Homo sapiens: one gene and its partners. The protein of the gene in region 2 purifies or fractionates together with the protein of the main gene of each other region. This does not show direct contact. Each region holds a gene or a part of one and is shown on either strand. Other genes may lie near its edges. The genes, in order: TMEM200A, ZDHHC11, EXOC2, FAM241A, RETREG2, DGAT1 and PDGFRA.

Region 1 (4,888 bases), on a different chromosome or scaffold from region 2:
GCCAGACATCTTTTACTTCTCTTTGCCATTTCCCATTCAATACAACTAGCAAGACCCTCCAGCCTGGCTTCCTTCAACCAAAACCCTACAAACCACCCTCCTACACACACACACTGACTTCTGTCTCTCTTTAATTCTGCCAGAATTTGCCTTGCAGCATTTTAAAGAGAGACCATAAAGATCGTCAGTCCAAAGCCCTCATTCTGCAGATAAGGGCACCAAGGAGCAGAAAGGTGGAGGAACTTAGCCACTTACCCACAGCCACCTAATTAGTGACTCAGTCAAGATGACAACTCCCCATCCAGGTCCCTCTGCAACCCACTATGCTGCTTCCCAGTCTGCACTGGTCCCCTGCTGCTCTCAGACCACCTCAGCTGCCAGGTGATCTGTGGTACATTTATCAGTCCCCTCTCCATCAGCCTATAAGCCCATAGAAAAGGCCTGGAAGGGTAGCTAGCATGACACCACAATAAGCACTCACTGATGTTTTCTGAGTGTTTGAGCACATATCAGATCTCAGCAGACAAAACATAGCGTAAGTCCAGGAACAAGTGGATCTGCTTGATAAAACTGTAAATCAGATATACATTCCTTAATAAAATGAGGTCCATCTCATTGCAGGTTTGGATTTCTGTTGCTGCACAAGTTATTTTTCCTCTTTTAAATTCTACCCTCTATTTGATAAGTAACGTGTATGACTACAAGGGCTTATTTTTTATCCTCTACTAATTTTGCTTAAGAAATGTAAAAGTTGACATTTGCTTTTATCTTTGTTCTTATCTATCTTCCTAAGCTAAATATGAATTTCTTTCCTTTATGCTAAGAGTCATCATGAGAAGTACAGCATTTAACCAATCAGTTCAGATCCGTTCCCTCTATATGTCAGTAGTTATCCTTTTCTGGCCAATGAGCTATTGTCAAAATTCTGAAGCTACACAAGTCCAAATATAACAATCTAACTCCTGTAGTATTCAAAAGCTTCACTAAAAATTCCACTAAGTTAAAATAACAAGTACAGCCATCCCTCTTTACAATGATCTTTCCTGAAGAATCCCTTCTGATTACGGGTGTCTTCAGACACTACAGCATTTACCTAGACCTGCCTCAAAGGCAACAGGTGAAGCCTTTCTGTGCTAACTGCCTGGAATTTACCTACAGGGACTTTCCATACAACTCTAATGAAGGCTTTCCCAGCCCAGATACAAAGCTAATTATAACCAGGGTTACAAATTATAGTTACATTATCTCATAATTATGAGCTATCTAGTAGGACTTGGTTAAAAAATCATTCTAAACACCTCAGTGTGTGTTTTTTACAGTAAAAAAATCATACTGTTAAATTGTCAAAGCATTTAACTATAGTTTCCACTTAATGGAAGCATTATTTTCTGTTTAGAAGGACTTCTATTCTTCACTTGAGGTGTTTATAAAGAATGAAACTACAACTACATACTTCTGTGTAGGTAAACAGTGGGAAAATAAAGTAAGGTTTAAAAAGTTTCAAAATTTAGTCTACTTTTCACAAAATGATAATGCTTTCTAGTATCAGTAGCCAAATAACAAATTGAAGGTCTTTTTATAAGTGTTCCATAATTCAAGAAACGACAAAGTAAATAGCTTTCACAAGCTCTGGTAATATTTATGCATACAGCACTATAGAAAGTGTGCCTCAAACTTGGTTTGATTGCAAAACCGAGAGTTCAATATTCTTTCTTATAAACAAGAATAATCATCGATTCTTGAAATGTTTTCTATGCAGTTGTCCATAACTACTTCTGAAGGTATTCAGAAGAGACAAGGCAAGAGACACTTTAGTCCAACATATTTAGTTTTTAAATACACCAGACTAAGGTGGACCGGACTAAGGCTGATTCCAATTAGTCAATTACCTGTATGTGCTGCATCTGCCTTTCTCTCCGACATTACCAATGCCCGGTACTGAACAATGAATTGTTATTTAAAAAAAACACACAAACACACACACATTTTTCTAAATCAAACAGCGGTAAATACACACAGAGAGCTTGCGCCTACACAATGTGAAGTGTTGGCTGGAACAATTTATAGCAAAAGAATGATTAATGAAGCAAATCTTAGAAGCCCTCAGTCCTTTCTCTTACAGACAAGACTACAGGGAGAAGAGTAGTGCTGAATTTTGCAAATAATTGCTTTGCCTCTCCATTTTGCCTGTGTAGATTCTACCCCATCCAGATACTGCTTTACGAAACCCTGACCATACTTTGCTCAATCATGAATTAACGCTGTGGACATTACAGAGAATGCTGACTCTCAGGAACCGAGACAAAGGAGGGTGTTGCTTGGAGAAACCCAGCCAGGCGCTCCAGTACTCCGGGTTCTTGGAGGCTGCCCCGCACGGCTTCTCTCGCGCTCCCGGGACTGGGGAGTCTGGACCTGATGGCGGACTTGGTTTATTTCCCAAACTTTAGGAGAGACAGCGTTTACCTAACTCTGGAGGCTGTAGCGGAGGGGAGGGGAGGGCAGAGGGCTGAAGAAGTGCCCGGTTTCGGCTGCGGTGGCCGCCCACCCACCTCCCCACTCCCGTCAGCACCCTTTCCTTCCCCTCACCTGTCCTGAGCACCGGGCCCTGGGGGTCGGGTCGCCTCTCCCTGTTCTCAGTCCTGGTCTCACTCCAGGAGCTGTCGGGACGTCGGGCGCCTCTGGAGGCGGACGAAGAAGGCGGCAGGGTCGGGGGCGTCAGCGGGAATCTCGGCCGCCGCGGGCAGCCGCGGTCTCCCTCCCCATCCCAGGGCTCGGGCGGCCACCGCGGGCGGATGAGTCAGGCGAGGGGGCGGGTGGCAAGGGGTGCAAGCGGACGGAGGGTGGGGGCGCCCCTATGCCCGCGCCGGGGGGGCACCGGAGGCCTCGGGGCAGGGGATGCGCCGCTGCCGGTGCTCACAGAGGGCCGCCGCCATCCGGGCGCAGAGTCCAGGCGCGCCTGCCCTCGGAGGGCACCGGGCGCAGCAAGCCGGGCAGGGGAGAGGGAGTCGCCGCTCAGGCGGCGCCGCCACCGCGTCCAAGAAAGACAAAAGGGACCGGGAACGGGAGGGGAAAAGTTTTCTGCTCGGCTCCAGATGGATCCCAGCCCCAAACCTCACGCCATAAAGCCCCGAAGAGGCGGGTTGGGGGCGGGGGCCGGGGCGGACTTCCAGGGGCGTGGCTGCGCGCCTGCGACCCCGGACCGTGCCAATCTCGCCGCCGCCCCAAAACCTGTGGGAAACCCCAGTCCTGCCACCCACTCCTCCTGGAGGACGCAGACAGGATCTGCTCTGCAGGAGCCCAGGCCGGCCGATCCGCGTCCCGGCCACAAAGTTGCACTTCGAGAGCCCAAATCACCCGCAGACAAAACCCATCTTTGGGAACAAAGTACCCGCTTGCAGGCGCTCTTCCCGGGCTGGAAGGCTGGCGTGCGGAAACGGACACACCCACCCGTGGGGCCCGCCTCTAGCTACCGCGGGACCACCGGTTACCGAGCCAGGGACCCGGCTCCCCCAGTTCTCCGGAGCGGCTGGGGAGCTCCAGCCGACTCGCAGTATTCCCGGAGCAGGCACCGCAGGACCCTGGCTCCACGCCCCTCGGACGCTTTCTCCTCAGATGCCGCCCGGCGGGCCGGGGTCCCCCTGGCGGGCTGCGCGGGCGCTGCGCGAGCTAAACCAAACCTGGCCGGAAAAGACGCGGCCAAGGCCCGCTCCGTCCACGCTTCCCGCCGGCCCGGCAAGGGGTTCCGGAGAACGGCTTGGGGGGGCGAGAACCATGGGCGGGGGAAATGGAAGACAGAGGGAACTGAAGCACGGGGGTCTTCGATGAGCAGTGCGGATGTTCGACTCCAAACATCAAAGCCAACGAGAGGTTCAGGTTACTCCTCCTTGACCCCAAACATCCAGTGAGTGGAGACTGGCCTGTTCACAGAGTAAAATATGTCGTCTCTAATTCGGCAAAGACGGTGATGACTGTATATATGCAGGCCAATTCCGTAAGTAAAGTTTCATGTAAAACTAATTACCGGATATTCCAACCACCCCCTGTGCAGGCCAGCCGCATGCACAAGGTGTGTGCTATGCTTGTGTCCCCTGGATCTGTTTTAAGTGATAGAAGGCAAGTATGATATTCTGGTGCAGTGTATTTGTTTATTTCGGCGTGTGATCTGTTTATCTCGTTTTCAAGAAAAGTTTGCTTCTGGGGGGGTATAAAATCCGTGTTTGGGGGGTGGGGGAGAGCCATGCAAAAATTTCCACATTAGAAAAAAAAGTCTTTAAAATCAGATATGGCAATGAGAAGAGACTGTAGAAATGGATTTCCTGTGGTATAACCTTCTTGCCTTGACTAGAAGAATTTAGAGATTGGGCACTTTTAGTGGAGATGTCACAATCAAAATGTTTTATAAAAAGAAAGAAAAGAAAACTAAAGGAGTTACGGTGGGGGAAGGATGAGTCACCTTTATAAACCATCTGTGGTTTTATTTTTACCCCACCTGCATCTAGTATTCTAGCCCACAGCCACCTGCTCAATTCTCTTAGGTTTTCTTAAATGTGTTTGTCAAGCACCATATCAAAGGAGTGTGCTTCCATTGGGCCCTCTTCCTAGTTACCTCTACATTTTATAAAGAAACACCCTGAAGCCACATTGTCTGTAAAGCTCCTGAGAGGAAACACCTCCTGGTTCCCCTCACTATCTAAGGAGTGAGTAATAGGAATAGGCTCATAGTCCATAGATCATTTGAGGTGACATCCTCTCTAAGACCCATGGTAAAACGTTTAAAATGGTCATCTAGCCATTTTAAGCATTGAGTGACTGAGCCGTCCTCAAAAAGAGACTGATGAGAGCCATGAAAAAAGGAATAAGCACATTCTTAAGGCCACAGATATTGATG
Region 2 (4,281 bases):
TGCATTACGCCTGATTTTTGGAAGTGTGGTTTTGAGTGTTGGCAGCCCAGTGTCACAGAGGACCATATCTTAGAAATGACCCCAGGCGAGAGCTGTGGCTTTCCTGTTCTATTTGAAGGCAGCTGTTTTAGGGTGCAGCGGGTCCAGGGACACAGAGTGGGCCATGAGCAAGGGATGGGTGCTGGGGCCTGGCAGAGCTGGCAGGCTCTGTGACCCCGGCACTTAGGAAGGGGTGGGCACCGTGACCCTGGCACTAAATAAGGAAGGGATGGGTGCTGTGACCCTGGCACTTAGTGAGGAAGGGGTGGGCACTGTGACCCCGGCACTTAGTGAGGAAGGGGTGGGCACTGTGACCCCGGCACTTAGTGAGGAAGGGGTGGGCACTGTGACCCTGGCACTTAGTGAGGAAGGGGTGGGCACTGTGACCCCGGCACTTAGTAAGGAAGGGGTGGGCACTGTGACCCTGGCACTTAGTAAGGAAGGGGTGGGTGCTGGGGCCCTGGCACTTAGGAAAGGATGGGTGCTGGGGCCCGGCAGAGCCGGCAGGCACTGTGACCCCAGCACTTAGGAAGGGGTGGGTGCTGTGACCCCGGCACTTAGGAAGGGGTGGGCACTGTGACCCTGGCACTAAATAAGGAAGGGATGGGTGCTGTGACCCTGGCACTTAGTGAGGAAGGGGTGGGCACTGTGACCCCGGCACTTAGTGAGGAAGGGGTGGGCACTGTGACCCCGGCACTTAGTGAGGAAGGGGGGTGGGCGCTGTGACCCCGGCACTTAGGAAGGGGTGGGCGCTGTGACCCTGGCTCTTAGTGAGCAAGGGGTGGGCGCTGTGACCCCAGCACTTAGGAAGGGGTGGGCACTGTGACCCCGGCACTTAGTGACAATGTTGGAGCCTCACCTCCCAGATCCATAAAGCAGGGATCATGAAAACCAACCGAAGGCAGCAGGGCCTACGGGGCACTCAGGTAAGGGAGGCGTCCACCTGGGCAGGGAGACATCCCTCGCACTGGCTGTCCCCACACCGCCCCATCCCCAGCACGCTCTGGTCTGTGACGTCCACCTGATGTGGCACCCGTCAGCAGGTGCTGGACACAGTGGCTCTCCCTTGTCTCCCCAGATGTCAAGAATATGAACACGTGGCTGCTGTTCCTCCCCCTGTTCCCGGTGCAGGTGCAGACCCTGATAGTCGTGATCATCGGGATGCTCGTGCTCCTGCTGGACTTTCTTGGCTTGGTGCACCTGGGCCAGCTGCTCATCTTCCACATCTACCTGAGTATGTCCCCCACCCTAAGCCCCCGATCCCCCCAAGGCTGGGTGGTCAGAGCTGCTCATCTTACACCTCTACTTGAGTATGTCCCTAACCCTGAGCCCCCCACGCCTGGGGCCAGAGTCTTTGTCCCCCGTGTGCGCATGTGTTCAGGGTCAGCCTCTCCCAGAAGTGAGATCATGGACAAAAAGGGCAAATCACAGGAAGAAATTAAATCCATGAGGACCCAGCAGGCCCAGCAAGAAGCTGAACTCACGCCGAGACCTGCAGGAGTGGTGCCAGGTGCTTGAAGTAACAAGTTTAAAATGTTCAGAGACAATGGAATGGAATCTATTAGGCAAGAACAGGACATTATGAAATAAGGACAGGTGGACTTCCAAAAACACAAGTAGAAATTCTAACAATGAAATATATTACAGGCAGGTCACCCACTAACCAAACAACTGAAGCGAGAGCTGGTGGTCTTGCTTGGTCTCACAGTGGGCACAGCGGTAGGCGGTCAGTCATGTTGCTGAACGACGGAGGGTAAACTCCCCAGCCCCAAGGAAACCTGTGTTGGAAGTAACAACAACCTCCCTGCTCCTGGCACCAGCCGTTTTGGTCATGGTGGGCCAGCTGCAAAGCGTCTTCCATTCTCTGGGCAGTGGTGGCCCCGAGGCTGTGGCCTCTCAGGGGGTTTCTGTGGACACGGGCAGCAGAGTGTGTCCAGGCCAGCCCCCAAGAATGCCCTGCTCCTGACAGCTTGGCCAACCCCTGGTCAGGGCAGAGGGAGTTGGGTGGGTCAGGCTCTGGGCTCACCTCCATCTCCAGAGCATCCCCTGCCTGCAGTTGTGGCAAGAACGCCCAGCTCAGAATGAACACACCCCACCAAGAGCCTCCTTGTTCATAACCACAGGTTACCCTACAAACCACTGTCCCCACACAACCCTGGGGATGTTTTAAAACACACACCTCTAACGCATATCTTACAGTCACTGTTGTCTTGCCTGAGGGTTGAATTTTTTTTAATGAAAGTGCAATGAAAATCACTGGATTAAATCCTACGGACACAGAGCTGAATGTGCTGTTTTCAGAGTTTTAATTTTGGATGTCAAGGCCAGTGCCTGTATAGAATAGGTGCTTAGGATATGTTTACTGAATGGAATGGAACTAAAGCCTCAGGTGTAACTTCATGGAGACACGCGTCTGCCTTGTAGAATGTTACAGGCTGCCTGTTCCTGAAGCTGAAACCCTTAAGAGTGAGAAGTCATTTGGGCCTCCTTCAAAACTCTCCACCCTTCTTAGAATCAGGAATATTTTTAAAAGTACTTTCTAGAATTATCTAGCAATCTCTCTTATATTTAAATATTTTTGGGTTTACCACCTATGAAGGCTTTTCTGGAGTTTCACTCCACCCAGAATTCATCATCTCTCCTTATCAGGAAATCTCTCACCCTCAGATGCTTAGAGTCAGGGTGAGTCCCCCCACAACAGGAGAATCGGCCGAGGTTGGGCCGAGGCCACATGGTCTCATCCACATGTGCCGCAGATTAAGGGATGCTCAAACTGCCCAGTAATACAAAGTCTGCACTTGTCATTTTTTTCCAACTTTGTGTACAAAATGTTTCCCTGGGTTAAAATAGTCAATGCCCACTGTGTGCTGAGCACGTGGGGTGCTGCAGGCCCTTGTGCTGCAGAGAAGCTGGCCCTTGCCTCAGGCGGCAGAGCAGGGAAGTGCAGTGGGCCTGAAGCCATGCGGGGCTGGGAGGGATGACCTGGTCTGTCCTCTGAGCCAGGCACTGCACTTGGAATGGGCTTCTTGAACGCAAAGCCCAGACCAAGTGTGGCAGAAACATGAAAGGACAGGCAGTCGGCTGCTGTGGGCGGGAGGCAGGACGCCCAGGCCTGTCCCCACCCCCGTGACCCAGAGCCTCCCTGGGCAGTGACTCCAGGATGTCCAGGAGCTTCTTCTCTACCTCACAGGACTGGAGAGGCTGTGGTGAGACGCATCCTGTGAAGGCTGGGCTGGCCACAGGCAGCTCCCCAGGGCGCCCACCGCCATCTGCTCCTCACTGCAAATAGGCCTCTGTGGGCGGCCGCCCCAGTCTCCAGAAATAGTCACAAGACATCGGCTCTCACGGTGTTGGTGTTTAGGGAAAGAAGCATGGAGAGTTTGGCCCCTCCATGGAAGCTCGTGGCTGAAATAGGTGCAGAGCCCATTTTATTAACGTTTGTTAAGACGGCTCTTTTAGATAAACGGGTGTATCAGGTTTTGCTTTGCTTCCCTGGGCTGCTTTGCTGCCTGCAGGACAGGCCAGGTGGGTAGGGCTCTGGCCAGCCTGCTGAGCTGTCCTGTGGGCACTGTGCAGGGCTGCAGGGATGGTGACCTGTCTCAGCCCCATCAGAGGCTGTGCTGAGTGGCACTCACAGCACTCGTGTTCACCTCCTGGGCCTGGGGCTCTCAGCACGCTCAGGAGTGTGTGGTCCCAGGACCCGCTAGCCAGCACCTCGGGGTGGCCGCCCCACTGCGTGGTCCTCCGACTGTGGGGTCTCTGTGCATCCCCCAAGGTGCGCCCCACCCAGTGTCCAGATGTGGGGAACCCCACAGGCCATCTGGACCCTCAGACAGAGCGGCCCCTCCTGAGCTGGTCTCTTACCCCTGCCAGCGATCCCAGGGGATCTGGAGCAACCTCTCAAGCTGCATGGTATAGGGGACCCAGGTCTGTGAGAGACAGCTCATCTCTGACACCACTAACAATGCAGCTCAATGAGGCCGTGGCAGGCGGCAGGGGCGTGGGTCAGCACTGTTCCCCAGGTCGCAGCTGCAGACCCCTCCTGCTGACCATCAGCTAGCTGCAGAACTGGGCCCACAAGGCACCTGCACTCATCCTGACCTCACAGGGCCTGCATGGTGGGCGGAGCAGTTCTCCCTGTGCAGGGGCCGGATCAGTGGCACTGGCCACTCTGCTGAGCTGTCCTGTGGGCGCCGTGCAAAGCCGCAGGGCTGGTATCTTGTCCTGTTCCTCCTTTTCCCT
Region 3 (4,281 bases), on a different chromosome or scaffold from region 2:
GCCTTTAAGATGACAGGAAAAATCGTAGTTAAAAGGCTCCTTAAAAGAATCTTTTTTGGCACTACCACCTTTTAAACGATATCCAGTAAGTTATATACTCATAAAAACTGCACATGAGTTATCCATATAGATGGTAACCCACAACATAAAGAATTTGTACACTCAACAAGATTTAACACACTACTATAGGCAAGTTTAACATAACAAGTGTAAACAGGCCAGAAATATACAAAGCACACGCAGTGAAGGAGCAGGGCAGGAAACAGCAGCCTCAGGACGTCTGAGGCTACCCAGCTGCGTGTCCTGGACACTACGCTCAACCTCCCTGCAACTCTGTCGCTTTCTAGGTAGAAAATAAAGCAGTTGGATGACAAATGTGTGGTTTATTTCCAGCTTTACATTTCTAGGATTCTACAAACCAGGAAAATCCCCTATATACATTCTTTCTTATGGAGGCAGCTTAGAGAGAAACAAGAGTGGGCTCTGAAGCCAAACAGGCGTCCCGTCCCCCGGGTCACTGTGTGTGCTGGGCAAGCTTCCGTGTTTTCACCTGTACAATGGGCACCGCACAAGCGTCCTTTCATGGTGGTGATCAGGATTAGAGAGGACATGTAGAACACATCCCGCACAGCGCCTGAGCATGCTGCACACGTGCAGGGGTGGCAGCATGCAAACACAGCACCCTCTCTTCATCCCACCGCCACTGCCTCTGCTTGCTTCCTCCTGGGCAATACTAGTGTGCTGCCAATGACGACGGCTCATACTCCCGCCGTACGCCTCATCACTAGGACACAGGTCCAGGTGCGGATCTTTTCCCCCGTTCACACTTGCACACACAGCAGCTTTCAGGCCAGACGCTCTTTTCAAGACAGTCTTTTCTTTTCAGAGACAGGATCTTGCTGTCACCCAGGCTCGAGTGCAGTGGTACGATCACATCTCAGTGCAGTCTCGAACTCCTGGGCTCAAGAGATCCTACTGCCTCAGGCTCCTGAGTGGCTGGGTCTACAGGCATGCATCCCCGCATCTGGCTAATTTTTGATTTTTTGCAGAGACCAGGTTTTGCTATATTGCCCAGGCTAGTCTTGAACTCTTAGACTCAAACAATCCTTCTGCCTTGGCCTCCCAAAGTGCTGGGATCACAGGTCTGGGCCACTGTGTCTGTTCCTGAGACATTATTTTCAAAGGTCACATGGGGACCACAGCTAAATTCATAAATACATAGTCTGTCATTTTACAACCACTGAATAGTCAATAAACTTCACTAATTCAAGTGGAAAAACCATTAAATTTGGAAAATAATTTATTCTGAGAACAAAGGCCATACTCAAAAAATCCTAGCAGAAAATGAAGTTAATATTTTTAATCACAGATATAAAAAACTTAAAATTTATATGCTTTATCTCCAAACCCTGACATAAACTACATGTACATAAAATTTACTGACTACTTTTTATGTGCCGGGTGAGGTATTAAACCCTTAAATGTATTTCTGATTATCTTTGCAACTATCCTGAGATGCAGATTTGATTACCATGTCCATTTCAGATGAAGAAACCGAAAAATAGAACTCAAGTCGGTTGCCCAAAGTTAACAGCTAGTTCCCATTATGTGATACTGTTTCTCTCTAAGGCCTTCTCTTCATATCCTGTGAAATTCACCTCTCTTAATATCACTGCAAATTTTTTTTTTTAAGACAGAGTCTCACTCTGTTGCCCAGGCTGGAGTGCAGTGGTGTGAGATCTCGGTTCACTGCAACCTCTGCCTCCCGGGTTCAAGCGATTCTCCTGCCTCAGCCTCCTGAGTAGCTGGGATTACAGGCGCACATCACCATGCCAGGCTGATTTTTGTATTTTTAGTAGAGATGGGGTTTCACCACATTGGTCAGGCTGGTCTCAAACTCCTGACCTAGTGATCCGCCCGCCTCAGCCTCCCAAAGTGCTGTGCTGGGATTACAGGCATGAGCCACGGTGCCCGGCCCAATATTACTGCAATTTTTTAAAAAGTATGCTCACTTAGTGACTTTATTTCTCTTTCACTGACCACTAAAGGCTTGGAAATCAGAAAGCTATTCAAGGTTAAAACCTTCCAGAACTTACTGTGCTGTTAAGCAGCAGCACATTCTTGTGGCATAATGCATTTCCCACCCAGTGTGTGACAGTATTCTGCTTTAAGCCATGCAGGGAGCCCCTCCTTCACAGATTATGGGTACCCACACCATCCCACTAGGCAAGGTACCCCTTTGCTCAGCAGGAGGAAGAGGTTGAGACTACTTTTCCTTTCCCGAAAATGGCAGAGTTTTCTCAAAAAGTGAGTAACTCCATAACTACTCCCAAATCTATTAGTATTCAAAAGAATTTTGATGTCCTACGCCAGATAACCCTAAATTTCTGCTATTTGTCTTCCCCTTCACCATTTCATCAATCTCCTAAAGTCCCTCAAGTTAGCCTTAAGGGTTACAAGATGCATACAGTACCAAACAGATACATGTGATTCAACAAAATGTTTGCAGAAGATTTACCTTATGTAACGTTTTTGGTCATGTAAAGTTGATGGTGTCTCAAGCAATTTATCCAGAAGTAATTCTCTTAAAGCTTCAATCCTTGTTTCTACTTCAGCATAATCTATTTAAAAAGAAAAGAATACACAAGATTTACAGAATGAAAATTTAATATCAAATTTCAAAAAGCAGAATAGTAGTTGCTTTTGTGGGGTGAGGGCTAAGAGGCACCAGGGCCGTGTCTAGAGTGATCAGAACACTATCTCCGATGTAGGTTACAAGGGTGTACATATTTGTCAAAACTCACTGACCTCTAACATGTGAGGTCTGTACATTTCACTGCATGTATATTTTACCACAATAAAAAAATAAATTTAGTTTTCTGGGTCCTTACAGATTTCATTTTTAAATTTAATAAGGCCCTGTGATATTTCTCCTGGTGGACTGTAACTCTGGCATTAGACATAACTTCAAAAGTTGCTGAGCTTCCTTTAAAGGAGGTTGGAATTCTTCAGTCTATGGGTCTCTCTGAAGACGGGAAGATTAAAATGTAGGTTTCCATCTCTAGAAAATACTTGTCATTGATTCCTTCCAGTAAACTAAGACTTTCTAACAGCGTGATGGTTAACAAACGGCAGAGAACGTCTCAGGCGAACAACCTAGAGTCGTGGTTGCTCATTTTCACTGCGTATCAAATAAGAAAAGTCATACTGTTATTTCTGAAGTAATTGCTTTACATTGTAAAGAGAGCCTCATATAAACAAAAACTAAAAACTCATATAACATTCTTTGCAGAACACATTCCACATTCTTCCTATAAAAGGAAAGGAGAAGATCTAAAAGTAATACATGAATCTTACATTTCTTGAAAACTTGCACCTCCGTTTTCCCAAAAAGTGACTTGGCCTTTTCATAATCATTAATAACCACATCATAATCACCCTTTAAAATAAAGAAACATTTTGAAAACTGTCAGTAATGCAAAATGAAGACATTTGGTTAATATAAAAAACATCTTAAAAAATCTTAAAAATGTATGACATCTACAACCATATGTAAATAAATAAACATGTACTCTACCTTTTGAATATTCCTTTCAATATTTAGAGGAAGGTTGAAAAGAAACTTAAATCGCTGAAGCACATTGAGTGCATTTCTAGTGGAATCTGCCTTGTCTTTCCGACCTAATACTTCTTGAAACAATGTGTCTGCAGTATTACTTGCTCCTGTTTTAAAAAGAGGAAAGGAAACTTAGATGAAAGCTGATTTTAATCAGAAAATGTGTAACTGGGCACTAGAAACAAAATGTTAATACTGCTATTGTAGTTTTACGTTAAAACTCAGACTGTTTTTCAGTTTAGGGGATCTTTTATGGTTTGCTAAAATAAAATTTCCATTTTGCCTAAGTCTTTTCATATGTTAAGAATGGTATCCAATATAAAAAGCACCATATTTACCATGCCCAAATAAATTCTCTAATGTGAACCTACATTTATTTTCATTACACTTCTAAACTGTATAGCAATTATGGGCCCTTAGGTTATTTCAGAACTTCATACAATAGGGTAAAACACACACATACGCATGTATGTGCATACACGTGTACATTAGCTAAATTCTGCGGACTCAATATCTACATATGGGACAATAAACAAAACAAGGAAATCATTTTCAGGAAAGTTGCTCAATAGAAATATTTAAAACAAATTCTATTCCTTGGCAGAATTACCTCTACGTAGCAGGCAAAGAAAATTATATAAGTAATTTACAAATGACAAATGTGA
Region 4 (4,281 bases), on a different chromosome or scaffold from region 2:
GCCAGATAATACTTCGCTGTAGGGGACTATGGCATTATACGATGTTTACCAGCATTCCTGGCCTTTTCCTATTAGATGTCAGTACCACCTCCTTAGTTTCAGCAATAAAAAAATGTCCAGACATTGTCAAATGCCCCCTATGGACAAAAGGCCCCCAGTTGAGAACCACTGATTTAGAAGTTCCAGTCTGGATGATTTAAAAAAATGAACAAAAGATGCCTATCAAATGCAAAATTATTCCCTGAGTTACTCTAGTGACTGGATGTCCTTAGGAACAAGATGAGATTAAGTTAGGGCAGAATTCAACTAAGCTCATAGCACTTATTACAATATTGCTTGCAAACTGCTTTTAAAATACGTGAAAGGAAGTGAGTATAAACTAATATTTAGTTTTGAACTACACCATCTAAAGTAGGGCAGAAAATTTGTCAGACTGTTTTTCCATCATGTAATGTGCTTTTTGTATTTGTGAAACAAACAAACAAACAAAAAACACTAGCTTTGGTGTTCGGAAACCTGGGTTCTAGTCTGCTCTAGCATGAGTTAGCTGTAGGACCTACAGCAAATAACGTGGCCTAGGGAACAACTATTGGCTTCTCATATTTTACCAAGAGTTTAAATATACACTTCTAAGAAAATAGTTAAACAACTTCATATGTATATATTACTGATACTATGTTGAAGGGCAAGTGTGGTGAATACAGTATATTGACTTGCTTATTCTCCATTCCCTTGCCAAAATGTGGTCCATGGGCACAGCATCAGCATCACTTAGGAGTTTGTAGAGATGCAAAATCTCAGACCTCACTCCAAACCAACTGAATCAAAATCTGCATTTAATAAGAGATGATTCCTATGCACACTGAAGTTGAGGAATACTTGTGTCAGTTTCCATTGCTATAAAAAAATCAGACACAGACAATATAGCACTGGATAATTTATAAAGAAGAGAGGTTTATTTGGCTCATGGTTCTGCAGGCTGTACACGAAACATAGTGCTGGCATCTCCTTCTGGTAAGGGCCTTAGGAAGCTTACAATCATGGCAGAAGGTGAAGGGAGAGCAGGCAGTGTCACATGGCAAGAGGGAGGGAGGGAAGGAGAGAGAGGGAGAGAGGTCCCAGATTCTTTTAAACAACCAGATCTTGTGTGAACTAAGTGGGCGACAATTTACTTGTCACCAAAGGCATAGCACTAAGCCGTTTATGAGGGATCTACCCCCATGATCAAAACACCTCCCACCAGATCCCACCTCCAACACTGTAGATCACATTTCAGTATGAGATTTGGAGGCAACAAACGCCCAAACTATATTAATGCTGTTCTGCTTTTCGCCTCAGGTGGTTTTCTAATTGCAGAGGCTGGAAAACTTAAAATTGCCTTTCTCAGATTTCGTTTCAGTTAGGACTTTGGTCCAAAATTAGGCCTAACAGCTAACACTCACATGCTAGATAGCTATGTGCCAGAGACTGCTCTAAGTACATCTCATATATTATTAATTCATATAATCCTTCCAATAATCCTATGAAGTTGTTACAATTATTCCCATTATGCAGATGCAGAAACTGCAGCCCAGAGAGGTTAGTTACTTGCCTAAAGTTACAGTCAATAAAAGGCAAACCCAGGTAACCCTGATCTAGAATCTGTACTGTTAATCATATTTCTACTGATAGATCAAAAGGCATGGACCCCCCTCACTGAACCCCCCATTTTGTTTTCTTTTTTACAGATCATCTCATGGAACACACTTTGGCAAATGCTGTTACAGAAGTTCCTTCATTTATTTACTTACATTTATCTATGAGCCAGCATTGTTCTGAAAGTTCTAGGCATTGCCAAAGGCAAGAAATAGAAATGAGACATTATCATTTGAAAGGAAGCAAAATTATTTTTATCTATAAACTGGATAATTATATACCTAGAAGATGCAAATGAATCAAGTCTAAGAGCTACTAGTATTTATTAGTACCAGTATAAAAATTTAGAAAGATGGCCAGTTAAAAATGAAATACATAAAAGCCAATAGCTAGAAACCACCAACAAAATATGATATGGAAAAAATCCTTTTCATAATACCAACAAAAATATAAAAACTTAATACAGACTTTAATATAATCCTTAATACTATAAAAGATTATAAAGCAAGGCAGAAAGTACATTATTCAATGATTAGGACAAAAAAAGATCAGCTCCATACTTCATACAATATAGAAAATCATTCTAAAGAGATTAAATATATAGAGTAAAAAATTAAACCATAAATGCACACATACAAAAGAAAACATAGGCAAATATTTAACTGATTGTAAGATTAGAAAAAATTTCTTAATATGTATAGAAAGAGATACGTGTATACATGTGAGTGGTGTGTGTATATACGAAATTACCAAAAAAATTCCTTTAATAAAAATTCAAAGCATTATCAAATTTTAAAAAACATAAATAAAATTATAAAGTAAATAGCAAGCAGAGAAAATATTTACAGCCAATGTGAAAATAAGGGATTAATATCCTTATAATGCCAAAAGAAAAAAAATGACTAAAAAGAAATACAAATGCCTAATAAATATATGAATGGTTTAGTAAACCTCTCCAGCAACAGCTTACAATATGATAGAAGTTTCACCTATGAAATTGGCAATGATTATAAACTATATTGTTCATTGCTGGCATGGATGGTTTCCAACTGGCCTTTTTACACACCAGTGCTGCAAGTGTAAATGAGTACAACCTTTCTTGAATTAAATTCTTTAGGATGTTTCAAGAGGCTTCAAAGAGTTTGACTCATTGACCTAGTTCTTCTACTTCTAGGAATCTATACCAGGGTAGAAGTTTAAGGATTTACAAGCAAATATTTTCAGACAGCACGATTTATAAAAGAAAGCTTGAAGCAACTTCAATGTGCGGTGTTAGGGGAATGAATTATTTGGCAGCCCTAAAGAGAGTTTTCACATAGAATTTCCATAACATGGGAAAATGACACAACCTTTTGTAAAAGAAGACACAAAATTATATTTATATTAAAACATATTAAAAATACATGTGTGGCTGGGCACAGAGGCTCAGACCTGTAATCCCAGTACTTCGGGAGGCTGAGACGGGAGGATTGCTTGAGGCTAGTAGTTTGAGATTAGCCTGGGCAACATAGCAAAACCCTATCTCAAAAAAAAAGTGTGTATATATGCATATACACATAGACAAATGAATATACTGTAGTAATACCAAGTTTCATATTTGATATCAAAATATTTGATATCAAAATCCCAAAATAGAGTGGGATTTCAAAGGCTTTTTTCTTCTTTAGATCTTTCTATAGTTCTAATTTTCCAAAGCACACATTACTTTTATAATCATAAAGACGTTAAAGCTAGAGTTAATAATTCGAAAGTCAATCTAAGGATAATGGGACTTCCCTATTCTCTAGGTAAGAGGGTCATGTTAGGTTATTTCAGATTGTGAGTGACCTGTACATTGTGCCACATCTAAGCAGATGCTATTGACATTTAAGGCATATAATAATGGACTAGAGATGTTTAGCCTTTCAGCTATGCATCAGGGCACAGAAACTCTTACATAAAGCCACCTGGCATTCACCCTCATGAACATACTTGGATCATCTCTCATACACACAATTACCAACACATATATGGAATAGCTGTGTCCTGTCCCTTCAGTTTCTTGGACATTCCCTGAAATTGCTTCTTTCCCTTGCTTATCTCTCTTTAGACACCTGATCCTATTTCAAACCTGGCACAGTTTCTTCATCTACAGGACTTGATTCATTCTCCCAAGGCCTCCTTTCTTAAGTGACTTGATTTTAACCAGGCATCCTTTGTCAATCGCCCTACCTGGAAAGACTCAGGCCAGAATGACAGAAGAACCTTCATTTTTTGCTCAAATGGAGTAGCATCTAAAGACAAATTGTTAAAAATGATGCAGACAATATCTTAACTAGTAATAAAACACCTATGTTAATACTAGGTGTTTTATATATTTCATATATATATGAAATAAGTAACAAAATAAAGATACATTTTGTTCTGGTATTGTAATAACAAGCTGATGAAAGAGCTTTCCAGGTTGAGGAAAAGGAATGAACCTTTCAGACAGAAGTGGAAAGAAAAATCAGTGAAGGAAGGGATGTATGTGGACGAGGATTTAGCTTGAGAAATAGCCCAAGAAAGAAACCTCCATCAAATTATTAGGAAAGGGCAAACTCTGTGAGGGGAATAGAAATAGAAAGGGACTTAATACAGAAAATTAGGTGTTGACAAAATCATTGA
Region 5 (3,131 bases), on a different chromosome or scaffold from region 2:
CTTGCTTCGGCCCTGTTTTGCAACAAGGTAATAAACAGCCAGAACAGACTGGAGTGAAGCAGGTTAAGGGTGAGGAGAGAACACAGTGCAGTGCAGGGTGTGGAAGGCAGCTCACAGTCAGGGAGGCAGCAGTTCTAGCCAATCAACACTTTATTTTTCAAGTCAACACCTGCACAGATGTTAGTGTCCACTTCCTGACCCTAGTAGGGGGTCCCACTACACTTGGATCACCCAGAGGAGCAGTAAGGAAGCTCCTAATCTCAAGAGAGAGCACATGCTCACCAACTCCAGTGCTGGCGCCATGTACTGCGGGATCCCTGCTCTCCTGCATCATGAAAGGCCGGGCTGAATGGGGCAAGGATGCAGTGAAGGTTACACAGACTACAGTGACCTAAGAGTGTAACTACTGGCCTGACCCACTGCCCCAGGTTTACTCTTTACTTCCCAGACCAGGAGCCTCCCTAAAGCTTGGCCAGTGCCCACGGGATAGGAGGAGCTGGCAAAGGATGGGGTTGAGCTGCTAAGGACAGGACACAGCAGGGAAATAAAGCAGAAAGGAACACAAGACAAGAGAAAAATTATAAAGTGCCTCAACTAAACAACCAAGTGGGACATGAGGGCAGAGCAGCACAGGTCCCTGAGGATAGGAGGAAAAAGAAAGGGCCAGACCACCAGGGCTTGGGGCATAGTGGAATGAGAATAGAGATGAGGCAGGGAGGCAAGCGCAGGCTGTGGGAAGGACTTCCCTAGCCCTGTTCACATCCACTAACCCAAATGGAAAATTATTTACAAATTTAAAACCAATCCTAGGCACAGGTACTGCACCATGCCCAGGACAGCAGGCAGGCAGGCAGGCAGAGGGTGGAATAGCTACCATCCGACAGCCAGCTTCCCCACACACTGCCCCACCCCAGAGTGGTAGGCAAAGGAGGAAACAGCAACACTCCTAGCCAGGAAGCCCTACTGTGCCTGCAGCTCCTTCCTCAACGGCTGGCTCATGGCTCTGCCACGGCCTGAGCTTCTTGGTCTGACTGTACCAGAGAATGGATGTCGGGCCCCAGGGGTGGAGCATCAGGGGGTTTTGGCGGTGTCTCTGGCTCCAAGCCCAGCTCTGCATTCAGCTGCTCCAGCTCCCCCTGATCCAGCAACTCAAAGTCCTCAGTGGTGAGTGCCTCTTCTTCCTCAGGGGCAGGCAGGGGCTGGGGTGAGTCCTGGGGAACAGGTGGGAGAATGGAAGGGGAGGGGGCTGGGTCACTTCCAACAAGGCAAAGTGGAGGTGACAGGGTGCCGGGCAGAGCAGTGAGGCCACCACTCACTGTCTCGGGGCTCAGTGTCTCCACTGGTCCTCCAGGGGAGCATTTCACTCCATCTGGGGGGGACCCTGCCCCATTGAAGTGCGTGTTCACAAAGTGGAGGGGGGATGAGAGCCGCAACAAGGTTTCCTTAGCTGCCACATCCTCTTCCTCTTCCTCCGAGTCCAGGGCTTGCCTTGACAGAGCTTGAGGACGGCCTAGTAGGTCTTCGGGAGGGGCCAGCTCTCCCTCCTCTCCCTCCCCTAGGTCCCGGCTTAGGGTCTCCTCTGGTTCACTTGGCAGGCTCTGCTGGTCCAAATCTGTGCAGAGAACAAAGAATTAAGAATGGGCCTGCTGCTGGTCTGATTAGCCACAACAGACAATGAGTTCAAGGATGAGAACTCAAGACATGGAAAGCTGGGCCAAGCCTTAGGTGTTAAGGTCTTTTAGGAGCTGAGAGAATTAGAGAGTGAGTGGGCCAGAGAGCACAGTAAGTACCCATGGTAGGGAACACAAAGATTGTGGCGGGGAGCAGGGCAGCAAAGGGCTCCCCATACCCTCGGAGACATCAGTCAGCTGCGGAGTTGTGGCCCGGGATACGGAGAAGCCACCACTCTCCAAGATAGAAGCCTCCTCATCTGACAGCTCTGAGTCTGTAATGGCCAAGGCCAATGCTGTTTTCTTCACATCCACCTGGCAGGAGAACCAGGATGAACACGACATGTGAGGGGATAAGAGAACCAATTTATCAGGAGCATCCCCTCTCCCAAAACCTCTGGCTTCCACCTCCTTTGGAGGTGGCAGCTCCAAAGCAGAAAGATTTTTCCTCTGGCTTTCTATTTGACACCCCCGCTTTCCCTGGACCTCACCACTGGGGAGAAGCCAGCCAGCTCTGCCTCGCTTTCACTCTCTGTCTCTGCCAGTGGCTCATCACCTCCTGGGGGTGCATTCTTCCCCTGACGCTCTAGAAAAGCAAGAGTAGTAGAGCAATGACCAAGCATGAATGATGGGAGGGGAGACAAACACAGCTAAAGAACTGGAGAAGATCTCAATTCCAGGGCATCTCATGAACCCCAAGCCAAGGCCCTCCCGCTCTTTCACCCTCCTGGCTTAGGGCAGCCCCTTACTCCTCTTGTCGTGTTTGTGATGCAGGGCATTGGCTTCTGCCTTCATGCTGTAGTCCAGCTGCATGAGCAGGGGCTCCAGGCGAGTGTACATCCTCTGGATCAGCTCATGATAAACCACCAGGGGCCACAGCAGGATACTCAACACTATGGGTTAAGAACGTGAACTAAGAGCTCCCTACGCCAATTTCCTAAGAGCCCCCATTCAACTGGTCCCTAAACTGAAGTGCTGAAGGTAGGCAAGGTCCTTTCCCAAGGCTGTGCCAACCTCTTCTTGCCACATCCACTGCCCTCCTCCCCAGGTAAGTCTTCCACAGTTACTAATACTAAAGCATCCCTGGAGATCTCCACAAATCAGAAACTGAGCAGAGAGAGCATAGTCTTCCCTCTGGGTCAGTCCAAGGAAAGAAGAAAGGAGAGGGCTTTAAATAGGGCAGGGACAGACCCTACTCACAGACAATGTAGGAAATCATAATCCCTGGAACATAGTGTCCCAACACAGCCAACACAGCACAGCCAGAGCAGACTCGAACGCAGAACTGCAGAGAAGAGCAAAAGTCTAAGAACATCACGCTGAGATATGCGCCCCGCTCGGCTGGGTAAGAAACTACTGCTCAGCTGGTAGAAGGATGGGTATGTACTCAAGGAATGGGGTGGTCCAGTTTGGTTAAGAGGATGCTCAAGACCACCAATTCAGGAAGCTGGCAATACATAA
Region 6 (5,076 bases), on a different chromosome or scaffold from region 2:
AAAGGGCATCTGCCAGGTAGCTCCAGCCTGCCTGATACCTGGTTGGCAGCAACCCACAGCGGCCTGTGGTGACAAGAATATGTCACCAGGGGGGCAACCAAGGGGGCAGCCCTGCTGGCCACTGTTGGTGGAGGTGGTGGAAGAGGACGGAGCTCAGAGGCGAGGCTGTGACCAGCCCACGGGAGAGGACCCCACCTCAGGAGGAGCACCTGTTTGCTTCCAGAGAAGTGCTGCTTGCCCCTGCTCACCCCAGAGGAATGAAGGTGTTTCTAGAGTCAGAGTCCTCAGTGAACCCTGGCATCCTGAGATCCAGGATGTTCTCACTCCATGCCCTGTGCAATATGCACACCAAGCCAAGGTGGGCCGCAACTGTGGCTGTTACAGTTGATTAGTTGCTTCATTTAACATACAAGATGTCTGGGGCAGTGGCTCATACCTGTAATCCCAGCACCTTCAGAGGCCGAGGTGGGAGGATTGCGTGAGGCCAGGAGTTCGAGACCAGCCTGGGCAGAATAGCGAGACCCCCATCTTTAGAAAAAATAACAACAGGCCAGGCGCGGTGGCTTGCGCCTATAATCCCAGCACTTTGGGAGGCCGAGGTGGGCGGATCACGAGGTCAGGAGATCGAGACCAGCCTGGCCAATATGGTGAAAGCCCGTCTCTACTAAAAACAGAAAAATTAGCTGGGCGTGGTGGCACGCGCCTGTAGTCCTGGCTACTCGGGAGGCTGAGGCAGGAGAATCGCTTGAACCCAGGAGGTGGAGGTTGCAGTGAGACGAGATCGCGCTACTGCACTCCAGCCTGGCGACAGAGTGAGACTGTCTCAAAAAAAGAAAAAAGAAAACAAAAAACAACAGGGCGGTTGCACAGGCCGTGCAAATGCACAGAAGCCTCTTGAGTCCCGGCGATCCAGCGGCCCAGACTTCTGACATCCTGGAGAGGCTGGCCCACGTTGGAAACTGGGAGGCCCTGAGAGTTGAGGGACGTGGAGCTCCTTGTGGAGAGAGTGGGTGGGCTGAGAAGACACCACCAAGGGGCCTGCGCCCTCGCCCTCGCCCTCGCCCTCCTCTCGCCGGGCTCTGCAGGCGGGGAGGTGGAGAGCCTGGGAGTCGCGTGCAAGGCAGGCGTCCCGGTGACGCAGGGCCTGGTGCATTTCTCCAGCTTGGTCTTCTGACCTGGCCCTTGTCTGACGTCCCCCTAAGGCGAAGAAAAGCAGGTTCCTGCCGGGGTAACCAGAGGGCTCGCGGAGCAGAAGCGCGCCAGGGACGTTACTGTAAGCTGCGTGCGCAGAAACCAACGCGCTGGGTGGCGGGCGACGCGAGCCGCCGCGGACACCGGCCCGGACAGCTGGACCGTGGCGCACTAGGCGCTTCCTAAATGATTGCCCGGAGTGACTCGCCGAGACCCCGTGTGTACACAAGTGGGACGAGGGGCGGGCGCACAGCGGCCAGGAAGTCGGGGCCCAGCGCACCCCTCAGCGGACCATCCCGCTCCGTGGGGCCGGACAGGACCCCGGGACCACGCGGGAGCGATGCAAGGTCCGTTCCCGCTGCGCGCACTTGCGGCCCGCAGCCCCGGCCCTGGGAGCTGCCACGGCTCCCAGGGTGCTCTGCGCCGGTGCGGCCGCGGCGACTACGACTCCCAGGGTGCTCTGCGCCGGCGCGCCCGCGGCGACTACGACTCCCAGGGTGCCCTGCGCCCCGTCAGCCTCTCCAGGCCCCGCCTCAGGTCGGCCGCGGACTACAAATGGACGAGAGAGGCGGCCGTCCATTAGTTAGCGGCTCCGGAGCAACGCAGCCGTTGTCCTTGAGGCCGACGGGCCCGACGCGGGCGGGTTGAACGCGCTGGTGAGGCGGTCACCCGGGCTACGGCGGCCGGCAGGGGGCAGTGGCGGCCGTTGTCTAGGGCCCGGAGGTGGGGCCGCGCGCCTCGGGCGCTACGAACCCGGCGGGCCCACGCTTGGCTGCGGCCGGGTGCGGGCTGAGGCCATGGGCGACCGCGGCAGCTCCCGGCGCCGGAGGACAGGGTCGCGGCCCTCGAGCCACGGCGGCGGCGGGCCTGCGGCGGCGGAAGAGGAGGTGCGGGACGCCGCTGCGGGCCCCGACGTGGGAGCCGCGGGGGACGCGCCAGCCCCGGCCCCCAACAAGGACGGAGACGCCGGCGTGGGCAGCGGCCACTGGGAGCTGAGGTAGCGGAGCGCCTGACCCCCTAACCTCTGACCCAAGGGCCCCGCGACTTTCCGGGGTTGGCCGAAGCGCGAGCTCCGAGTCCGAGAACATGGGCCCTGGGCTAAGCGGGGATCGGTGTGCCCTATGGGCCCTGTGGGGAAACTGAGGCTTGGGGAGAGTCACCTGACAAGGTCACTGGGTAGGGGCTCTGGAGCTGGCCTTGGCCAGGCAGAGGGGAGCCGGCAGGTGTCCCGCATCCAGATCCTCTTGGGTCTGTGCATCCTCAGGGGCTCCTGAGGAGCTTTTCGAGGGGCGGGCTGGTGGGGGCCCGGCCCTGGACAGTGTCCCCTTATATGGAAGGAGTCAGATAAGATCTGGGCAGTTTGTGGTGATAGGTTCCTTCTTGGTGCTATGAGCGGTGCCTTGCGGGTAGGAAAGGCTCCCAGAGGAGGGCTGGCCTGCCAGGGAGGGGGCCAGAGGAGCCCAGGCCTGTCCGAGGACAGGGGAATCAGCAGCTGCCCCGGACAAGGGGCAGTGTTAGAGGCGTTCTTGTCCTTGCAGACCCTTCTGAGAGTGGCTGCGTGGCCCATTCATTGCTCCAGTGGTTAGGCTGGCCTGGAGCCCTGCCGATGTTGCCAGAGCCAGCGTCTGTTGTAGGGACAGAGAGTTGGGTTCTGTGTTGGGACTTCCATCCTCCAGGTGGGGAGTGGGGTATGGGGGTGGTGGACACACCTGCAGGCGTGTGCCCTGCTCAGCTGGATGACTGACAGAGAGGGGTGGAGGGAGAGAACCATGGCCGATGGGAAGGACTTGGCCAGCCTGGGCATTGGCTTCCTCCACCAAGCTGGCCTTGAGCAATCCCCTTGCCACCCTCCATCCCCCCTTTATGGCCTTTACCCTGGCCCAGGGGCCCTCAGGGCTTTGTTTTAGAGAGCAGCTGAGGGCCTAGAGGTTATCAAGGCAGAAGTGGGCTGATTTTGGACATGTAGTTGGCAATGATTTGCTCTCTCAGTGAGCAAGAACAGAGCTTTCCTTCACGGGGCACCATGGGGAGGGGGTTGGGGGAGGGCAGGCACTGTCGTGGCCCTCAGGGTGCTCAGTTCATCTGGGAGATAAGATAACCTCAGCGAGAGTCAGGCATGGAGCAACATGGACAAAGGTCGGGCACGGAGGCCTTGAAGGGGCCGTGGGGAGGAGGGTGGCCCTCCTGAGAGGGGTGCTTGCCTGCTGTGGGCCTGGGGTGCTGGTGAGGGAGGCTGGCCTAGGCACCTCCTACCTGAAAAGGAGGTGTGGCTCCTGGAGTTACCCTCTCTCCAGGAGGCAGGGGGATGGCTACATGACCTGTGGAGGACGTGGGAATTGAGATTTCTTTTTTTTTCTTTTCTTTTTTTTTGAGACTAGTTTTGCTCTTGTTGCCCAGGCTGGAGTAAAATGGCACATTCTTGGCTCACTGCAACCTCTGCCTCCCAGGTTCAAGTGATTCTCCTGCCTCAGCCTCCAGAGTAGCTGGGATTAGAGGCGCCCACCACACCCGGCTAATTTTGTATTTTTAGTAGAGATGGGGTTTCTCCATGTTGGTCAGGCTGGTCTCGAACTCCTGAACTCAGGTGATCCACCTGCCTTGGCCTCCCAAAGTGCTGGGATTACAGGTGTGAGCCACCGCGCCCGGCCGGGAATTGAGATTTTTTTTAGTGTGAGATGAGGGTAGTCCCAGCTTTGGGCCAAGCCGCCACCTGGGGGTAGGCAGGGGAGAGCAGTCACCTTCTTGCTTTGCAAACCAGCAAGGCTTTCCTGTACTTCTGCTGGTGTGGGATGGGTGCAGAGCTCGTGGGAGAGGCCTGGTGAGTCCCTGTCCCTGCCGTGGAGGTCGGGTCTCCTTGGGAAGAGGGGCAGTAGATGGAGAGGTGAGGCCTTCATGGGGCTGGAGGCTGAGACCAAAAGTCTATCTGCTCCTGGGTCTCCAGGACTTGCAGGCTATGTGTGCTTGTCCCTCAGACCTAGGGATGCAGCAGGGCTCGGCCACTGGCTGTGGACACTGGGCTCTTCTCCCTGCTGTCTGCGTCAGGCCTTGCTCTGCCTGCCCTCCTGGGACTTGGCCTCTAGCGCACCCCCTTGTCAGCCTCACAGCCTCCCCTCCCTCCAGCTTCCTGCTGCTCTTGGCCCAGCCCAGCCTTTCCTCTCCCGCTTCCTCATTACTCCTTGAGCTCGGGCCTCCTCCCCTCACGGACACTTCCTGCTCACCTAGGGCTGGGCTCTGGGTGTGAGCTCCTTTCTTCCGGCCCCGTGGCAAGGTGAGGCTGTGAGGCAGGCAGGAGAGGGCACCCCTTTCTGCTCTGCTTGTGGCTCACTCCTGCCAGGCTCTTTGCACACACCCACCAGCCCTCTGCTCACAGGCACCCCAGTCGGGGCCATCCGGTTTCTGGCTTCTCCCAGGGTGTTTTGTCCCTGAGGTGTCCTTTCTGACTCTCCCTTTCTCTCTCCAGCAGGGTCTGCGAGGTGCAGGGAGCCTGCCCCAACCATCTTGAACCCAGGCCCAGCCCAGAGGCCAGAGTGGAGGAGGCGGCAGTGAGCAGAGCTGGACTCTGCCCCCTCCTCATTGTGCTTGGCCCTGGAGCTGCACTGTGTGGGCCCCAAGTGTGGGACTCACTGGGACCTGTGCCTTTGGGCACACTTTGAACCTGGAGACAGGGTGGCGGGTGGGCATGTGCCAAGGTCTCAGTGTTGCCGTGAGACTGAGAGGATCCTGCTGGCTGGGTGGGCCTGGGGGCTGCAGGAGGGAGGGCAGGCTGCTCCGAGTCTTCTTGGACTAGGGAGTGGGTGTAGGGACAGCTGGAAGGTGCAGAGGCTTGGGCAGATCCTCCAGTCAGTGAGAGGGTGATAAAGGTGCTCTAGGCACAGGGGCAGATCC
Region 7 (4,281 bases), on a different chromosome or scaffold from region 2:
CCTCACCTATTAGACCTGTAGTGAGGCTCTCTGGGAGTGAGTCTTGCTGTTCCTGCCACTTTTATCTACTCTAAATGCTCATCCTTAATTAGTAACTGCTATTCTGGAGCTCATCTAAAGTCAGGTGTGCAAATATAAGTAACTGAAACTACAAATTCTGAGAAACATGGCACCATAAGAATCCGTGAGAACAACCCCCTTTGCAGGGAAGAACACTAGATTTCACCCAAATCTTTTCTTCAATCATAATTACTTCCCTCATGCCAACTACATGTTGAACTTCAGCCCCCATTCTCAATAATCACAGCTCAAAAAACATTTGCCATAACTTAGAGGAACAAACTGAGAAAGAGACCCCCCGCCCTGTTGACTCTCAGGCAGGTGACTTGTGCTTTTCCACCATCCTCTTGGCCTTCTTATGCTTTCTCTCAGAAGAAAGGATGGAAATCACATTGGACTAGCCACTGATCCCAAATCTGATACTCTATCCAACTCTCTGAACCTCAGTCTTTTCTTCTAGGAAGCACGACTACCAAGGCCTGACTGGTTGCTTGCCCTGTGGCATTCTTGTAAGGACTAAATTATATAGTTTAATTGAAAGTGCTTTGATTTTCACGACTTTTTCTGCAGACTCCCAAGATATTTTAGATCGGCTCCTTCAACTTCTCCTTAACTAAGAAAGTGAGGGATGCCCCAGAAGCCACATGACTTGCCCTGCACCTCCTACCTCCTGGAGACATGGATCTGAACTCTGATTCAGCCCACACCAGCAGTCCACTCCCATGACCCTGTTACCTCCAGCCTGGTGTGGCTATAAAGACCATTCAAAGATGAGCCAATATATACAGTCACAGAAACAGAGAAACAAATGACTTTGCAGCTACTATCCTTTCTCTTTAACAGGGTGCCATCTCCTGCCCTGCAAACAGAAGTAAAGAGCCATTGGACATGACTCTATAACCAAAGGCAATGTGCAAAGGTAGTGTAAACAGACAGTAGGCAATGCAAGGCTCTATTTCCAGAAGGACTAACAGCAAGACATTCTTCTCCTAAAGCCAGAGAGTTGGCTTCTCAATCACCAATTGCACAGTGCATCCCATTGCAGAACCACTGAATATTGAATTTCACCCCACCCTCACATGATTAAAGACCACAGGAGACTCTCTCACAGCCCCAAAAGCCACTGGTGACTTCAAGATTCAGATTTCCGAGGCTCAGTTAATTTCAGCTCTCCTAAGTTAATTCTAACTGTGAAAATTACACATTTTCCTTTTTCTACGCAGTCTCCTAACTTCAGCCCAGGCAAACCAAGTGCAGGTCTACACTGGTGGAAACTTCTCCCTGTTTTCCAGCAGAGGGTGTGTTTACCAGGACCTCTGCACCCTACCAGAGCCTGTTTTGTTGTTTTGATCTCCCGGAGCTCCATCAGACATTCCAGTAATGGGAGGGGGCTGGAGTGTTTTTAAACAGGAGCCTTTTATGGGACAATCTGGGCTCATAAACATGCCTGCTCTCCTCTCACCATATATTTAACCACGGGAGAATAAAATGACATATCCTTTTGAATATCACCAAACGGGTGTGACTCCTAATGGCACAACCTTAGGAGTAGCAGTAGCAGTTTGAGCATTCGGCTTGAGGTCACCAAGGCCCCGACATAGGTCTCCTCACTCAGAAACGGGAACATCAATGCCCCCCCACTACCCTCCTCACAGGCCAGCTCTGATAATAAGATGTTCACTATGTAAATGCAAAGCATTAACAACCAAGGAGAAACACAACACAAATTTCCACGAAATAAAAATGTTGTCTTCCAGCAATTCTTGTAGCCTCACAGCAAAAGAAAATCAGTCACCTATTACGGTCCTACTGAGCAAAAAATAAATAAAAAATAAAAAATAAAGCACCTTCCTAATGGTCTCCGCGAAGCCCATTCTCACAGCGGGTCGCAGTAGTTCTTACGAGTGGCCAGCAGATGGCAGTGTTGGTCCAAGGACGTGCGTCCACGGGTTGCGACACAGACGCCGCTGCGAGGAATTCTGAGCTCCACTACCCCAAATGTTAATTTCCAGTCTCTTCCTTCCTTAGGTTGTACTTTTAGCTTTCGTGGTGACCTCAGTTGAAAGCCCGCGGGGTTTAAGCAGAAATAGGAAAACTGCTGTTGAAAATGGCTAAATCTCCTCGGGACCCCAGGAGAATTCGGGGACATCTCCCCATCATCCCCATCATCATCCCCATCACCGGGAGCTGGTGCGCCGGGGCAGCGGGGCTTCGGGAAGACGTCTTCGGAGCCGGGAAGACGACGCTGCTGGGCTAGGCCGCAGAGGCTCAGCCGGACTCGCTACTAGGGTTCTGTGCAACCCACGCTCTCGCCACCTCAGCATTTCCGCCCCCTCGGGGCAGGGGGACCGCCTGGACCTCGACGCCGTTCCCGGGCCGCGCTGTCCTATCTGTCCGCGCGCCACCGCCGCCCCCATAAACCAGCCTGGCGAGGGCCGCGACGGCCGCGCAGCTGATTGGAAACGACTGTTACCGTTGCACAATAACGCAGGGTCGTAAAACAAACAAACAGCAACAGGCCGCCCGCGGGGCAAGGGAGCTGGCGAGGGGCTGGAACGCAGAAGACGGCGCCTGCCCCCCAAGAACGCACGGGACCCGTCCTCCTCCACACTCCCCTGCTTCTCCCACATTGAATTACAAGGACGTCCCATTCTCAATCCAAACCCAGAGACCTCGGCCCCCTCTCGTCCACCCGGCGCCTCCCGGGCCCACACAGAGCCTGCGAGGAGTCCACTGGCTGCCCGGAGGAGGGGAAAGGTGACCCAGATTAGCCTCCGCTCCGGGCCCCCGGGGTTCCAGCGCTGCGCTCCACTGAGATAGCGGCGCCGACCGCCCGGGGCTGGGGAAAGCGGGATGCGTCCCCGGAGCCCACTAGAGGGCGCGACAGCCCCGCGAATCTTACCCGGCTCGCCAGCTAGCTCGCCCGCAGCCCAGGCTCCTGGTCCCCGACAGCGCAGCCGGGAGTGCTGCGCGCAGACTTCGCCCGGGAGGCTCTGCGCTCGGACTGTCCAGCCCCCGCCACTGTCCGGCTTCTGACCCCGGGACCCAGAGGAACACTGCGCGGTCCGCTCTCCCTCCCACCTCCACCAAGTCCTCGGCGGCTTGGTTGTCCCGGGGTTGGCGGCGATGCCCAGCCGCTCCGGGGACCTGCGCCCCTGCGCCCCTGCGCGCCGCGCTCTGAACCTCAGAGCTGCAGAGGCCGCTGCGCCCCAGGCACGACGCTCTGCGTTTGCATTGTTTTCAACTGAGACCCGAGAGGGGGCCGGGCGGGTGTGGAGAGAGGGGGGAGAGCGGGAAGAGAATCCGGGCGGGTGGGGGGAAAGGGGCCGAGGGGTTTAGGGTTACAGGAGCTCGCCAGCGCCTCCTATGGGCACGAGAGCCGCACGGCCGTGGGTAGCGGCTCACCGGGAATGCTGAGGAGAGCTAGCATGCGCCCTCTCGGCATTTAAGAACCGTTCCTGGCCGGGCGCGGTGGCTTACGCCTGTAAATCCCAGCACTTTGGGAGGCCGAGGTGGGCGGATCACCTGAGGTCAGGAGTTCGAGACCAGCATGGCCAATATGGTGAAACCCCGTCTCTACTAAAAATACAAAAATTAGCCTGGCGTGGTGGCGGGCACCTGTAATCCCAGTTACTCGGGAGGCTGAGGCAGGAGAATCGCTTGAACCTGGGAGGCAGAGGTTGCAGTGAGCCGAGATCGCACCACTGCACTTCAGCCTGGGCGACAGAGCGAGACTCTTGTCACACACACACACAAAAGTGCCTTCTGGTGCCACCTTGCCCGACACGCGCCATAGCCGCCTCTGCCCCCTCAAGAGTCCGCGCCCACCCGCGCTTGTCGCTCCCCTTTCGCGGGGGCCGAGAAACTGCAGTAGGAGGCAGGGAAGGAGGCGCCCCAAGTCGGGTTTCCCATTATTCCCTCCTACAATCTACTTTTTCAGCCCATCCCAGGTTCGCTCATTGATCAGTTTAAAACAAAAGGAAATGCCGCCGAGCCACTTCAGCAAACGACAACCATCTGGCAGAACCCGAATTAGGGGGAAGTTGGGAGAAGCCATTTGCCCCCGATCCTGCATCTTGCGCCCCAGGCGAGACCGAAAGATTATCTGCCGCCCCAAGGCTGATGCTGCGGTTGGACCCGGCGAGTTAGACCCGGGGAACCCTGAGACCCACACCTTTCGGTCACCGATCCGGCTTTTAGCTCTTTTCCTAGAATTGTCAC

The links.
Region 1: the proteins of ZDHHC11 (region 2) and TMEM200A purify together in Homo sapiens (co-immunoprecipitation; one large-scale study listed by IntAct). This does not show direct contact.
Region 3: the proteins of ZDHHC11 (region 2) and EXOC2 purify together in Homo sapiens (co-immunoprecipitation; one large-scale study listed by IntAct). This does not show direct contact.
Region 4: the proteins of ZDHHC11 (region 2) and FAM241A purify together in Homo sapiens (affinity purification with mass spectrometry; 2 studies listed by BioGRID and IntAct, with this or other methods). This does not show direct contact.
Region 5: the proteins of ZDHHC11 (region 2) and RETREG2 purify together in Homo sapiens (affinity purification with mass spectrometry; 2 studies listed by BioGRID and IntAct, with this or other methods). This does not show direct contact.
Region 6: the proteins of ZDHHC11 (region 2) and DGAT1 purify together in Homo sapiens (co-immunoprecipitation; one large-scale study listed by IntAct). This does not show direct contact.
Region 7: the proteins of ZDHHC11 (region 2) and PDGFRA purify together in Homo sapiens (co-immunoprecipitation; one large-scale study listed by IntAct). This does not show direct contact.

What each region holds. Positions count from the first base shown.
Region 1 is NC_000006.12:130,364,223-130,369,110, reverse strand, and holds the start of TMEM200A (transmembrane protein 200A), read right to left. Parts: upstream 3,095-4,888; 5' UTR 2,587-3,094; intron 1-2,586.
Region 2 is NC_000005.10:837,487-841,767, reverse strand, and holds part of ZDHHC11 (palmitoyltransferase ZDHHC11), read left to right. Parts: exon of another isoform or gene 1-75; coding exon of another isoform or gene 76-85; exon of another isoform or gene 86-923; coding exon of another isoform or gene 924-965; intron 966-1,117; coding exon 1,118-1,273; coding exon of another isoform or gene 1,274-1,349; exon of another isoform or gene 1,350-1,420; coding exon of another isoform or gene 1,421-1,549; exon of another isoform or gene 1,550-1,686; coding exon of another isoform or gene 1,687-1,796; exon of another isoform or gene 1,797-2,326; intron 2,327-3,229; coding exon of another isoform or gene 3,230-3,263; exon of another isoform or gene 3,264-4,281. UniProt on the Homo sapiens protein: Endoplasmic reticulum-localized palmitoyltransferase that could catalyze the addition of palmitate onto various protein substrates and be involved in a variety of cellular processes.
Region 3 is NC_000006.12:595,503-599,783, forward strand, and holds part of EXOC2 (exocyst complex component 2), read right to left. Parts: intron 3,724-4,281; coding exon 3,578-3,723; intron 3,440-3,577; coding exon 3,358-3,439; intron 2,622-3,357; coding exon 2,519-2,621; intron 1-2,518. UniProt on the Homo sapiens protein: Component of the exocyst complex involved in the docking of exocytic vesicles with fusion sites on the plasma membrane.
Region 4 is NC_000004.12:112,148,069-112,152,349, reverse strand, and holds part of FAM241A (uncharacterized protein FAM241A), read right to left. Parts: intron 1-4,281.
Region 5 is NC_000002.12:219,180,494-219,183,624, reverse strand, and holds part of RETREG2 (reticulophagy regulator 2), read right to left. Parts: intron 2,956-3,131; coding exon 2,871-2,955; intron 2,564-2,870; coding exon 2,420-2,563; intron 2,257-2,419; coding exon 2,162-2,256; intron 1,986-2,161; coding exon 1,850-1,985; intron 1,613-1,849; coding exon 996-1,612; 3' UTR 1-995. UniProt on the Homo sapiens protein: Endoplasmic reticulum (ER)-anchored autophagy regulator which exists in an inactive state under basal conditions but is activated following cellular stress.
Region 6 is NC_000008.11:144,323,549-144,328,624, reverse strand, and holds the start of DGAT1 (diacylglycerol O-acyltransferase 1), read left to right. Parts: upstream 1-1,772; 5' UTR 1,773-1,988; coding exon 1,989-2,188; intron 2,189-3,243; exon of another isoform or gene 3,244-3,307; coding exon of another isoform or gene 3,308-3,327; intron 3,328-3,372; exon of another isoform or gene 3,373-3,980; coding exon of another isoform or gene 3,981-4,009; intron 4,010-4,396; exon of another isoform or gene 4,397-4,618; intron 4,619-4,651; exon of another isoform or gene 4,652-4,664; intron 4,665-5,076. UniProt on the Homo sapiens protein: Catalyzes the terminal and only committed step in triacylglycerol synthesis by using diacylglycerol and fatty acyl CoA as substrates. Highly expressed in epithelial cells of the small intestine and its activity is essential for the absorption of dietary fats.
Region 7 is NC_000004.12:54,232,125-54,236,405, reverse strand, and holds part of PDGFRA (platelet-derived growth factor receptor alpha isoform 1 precursor), read right to left. Parts: exon of another isoform or gene 4,235-4,281; intron 3,307-4,234; exon of another isoform or gene 2,963-3,306; intron 2,447-2,962; exon of another isoform or gene 1,935-2,446; coding exon of another isoform or gene 1,908-1,934; intron 1-1,907. UniProt on the Homo sapiens protein: Tyrosine-protein kinase that acts as a cell-surface receptor for PDGFA, PDGFB and PDGFC and plays an essential role in the regulation of embryonic development, cell proliferation, survival and chemotaxis.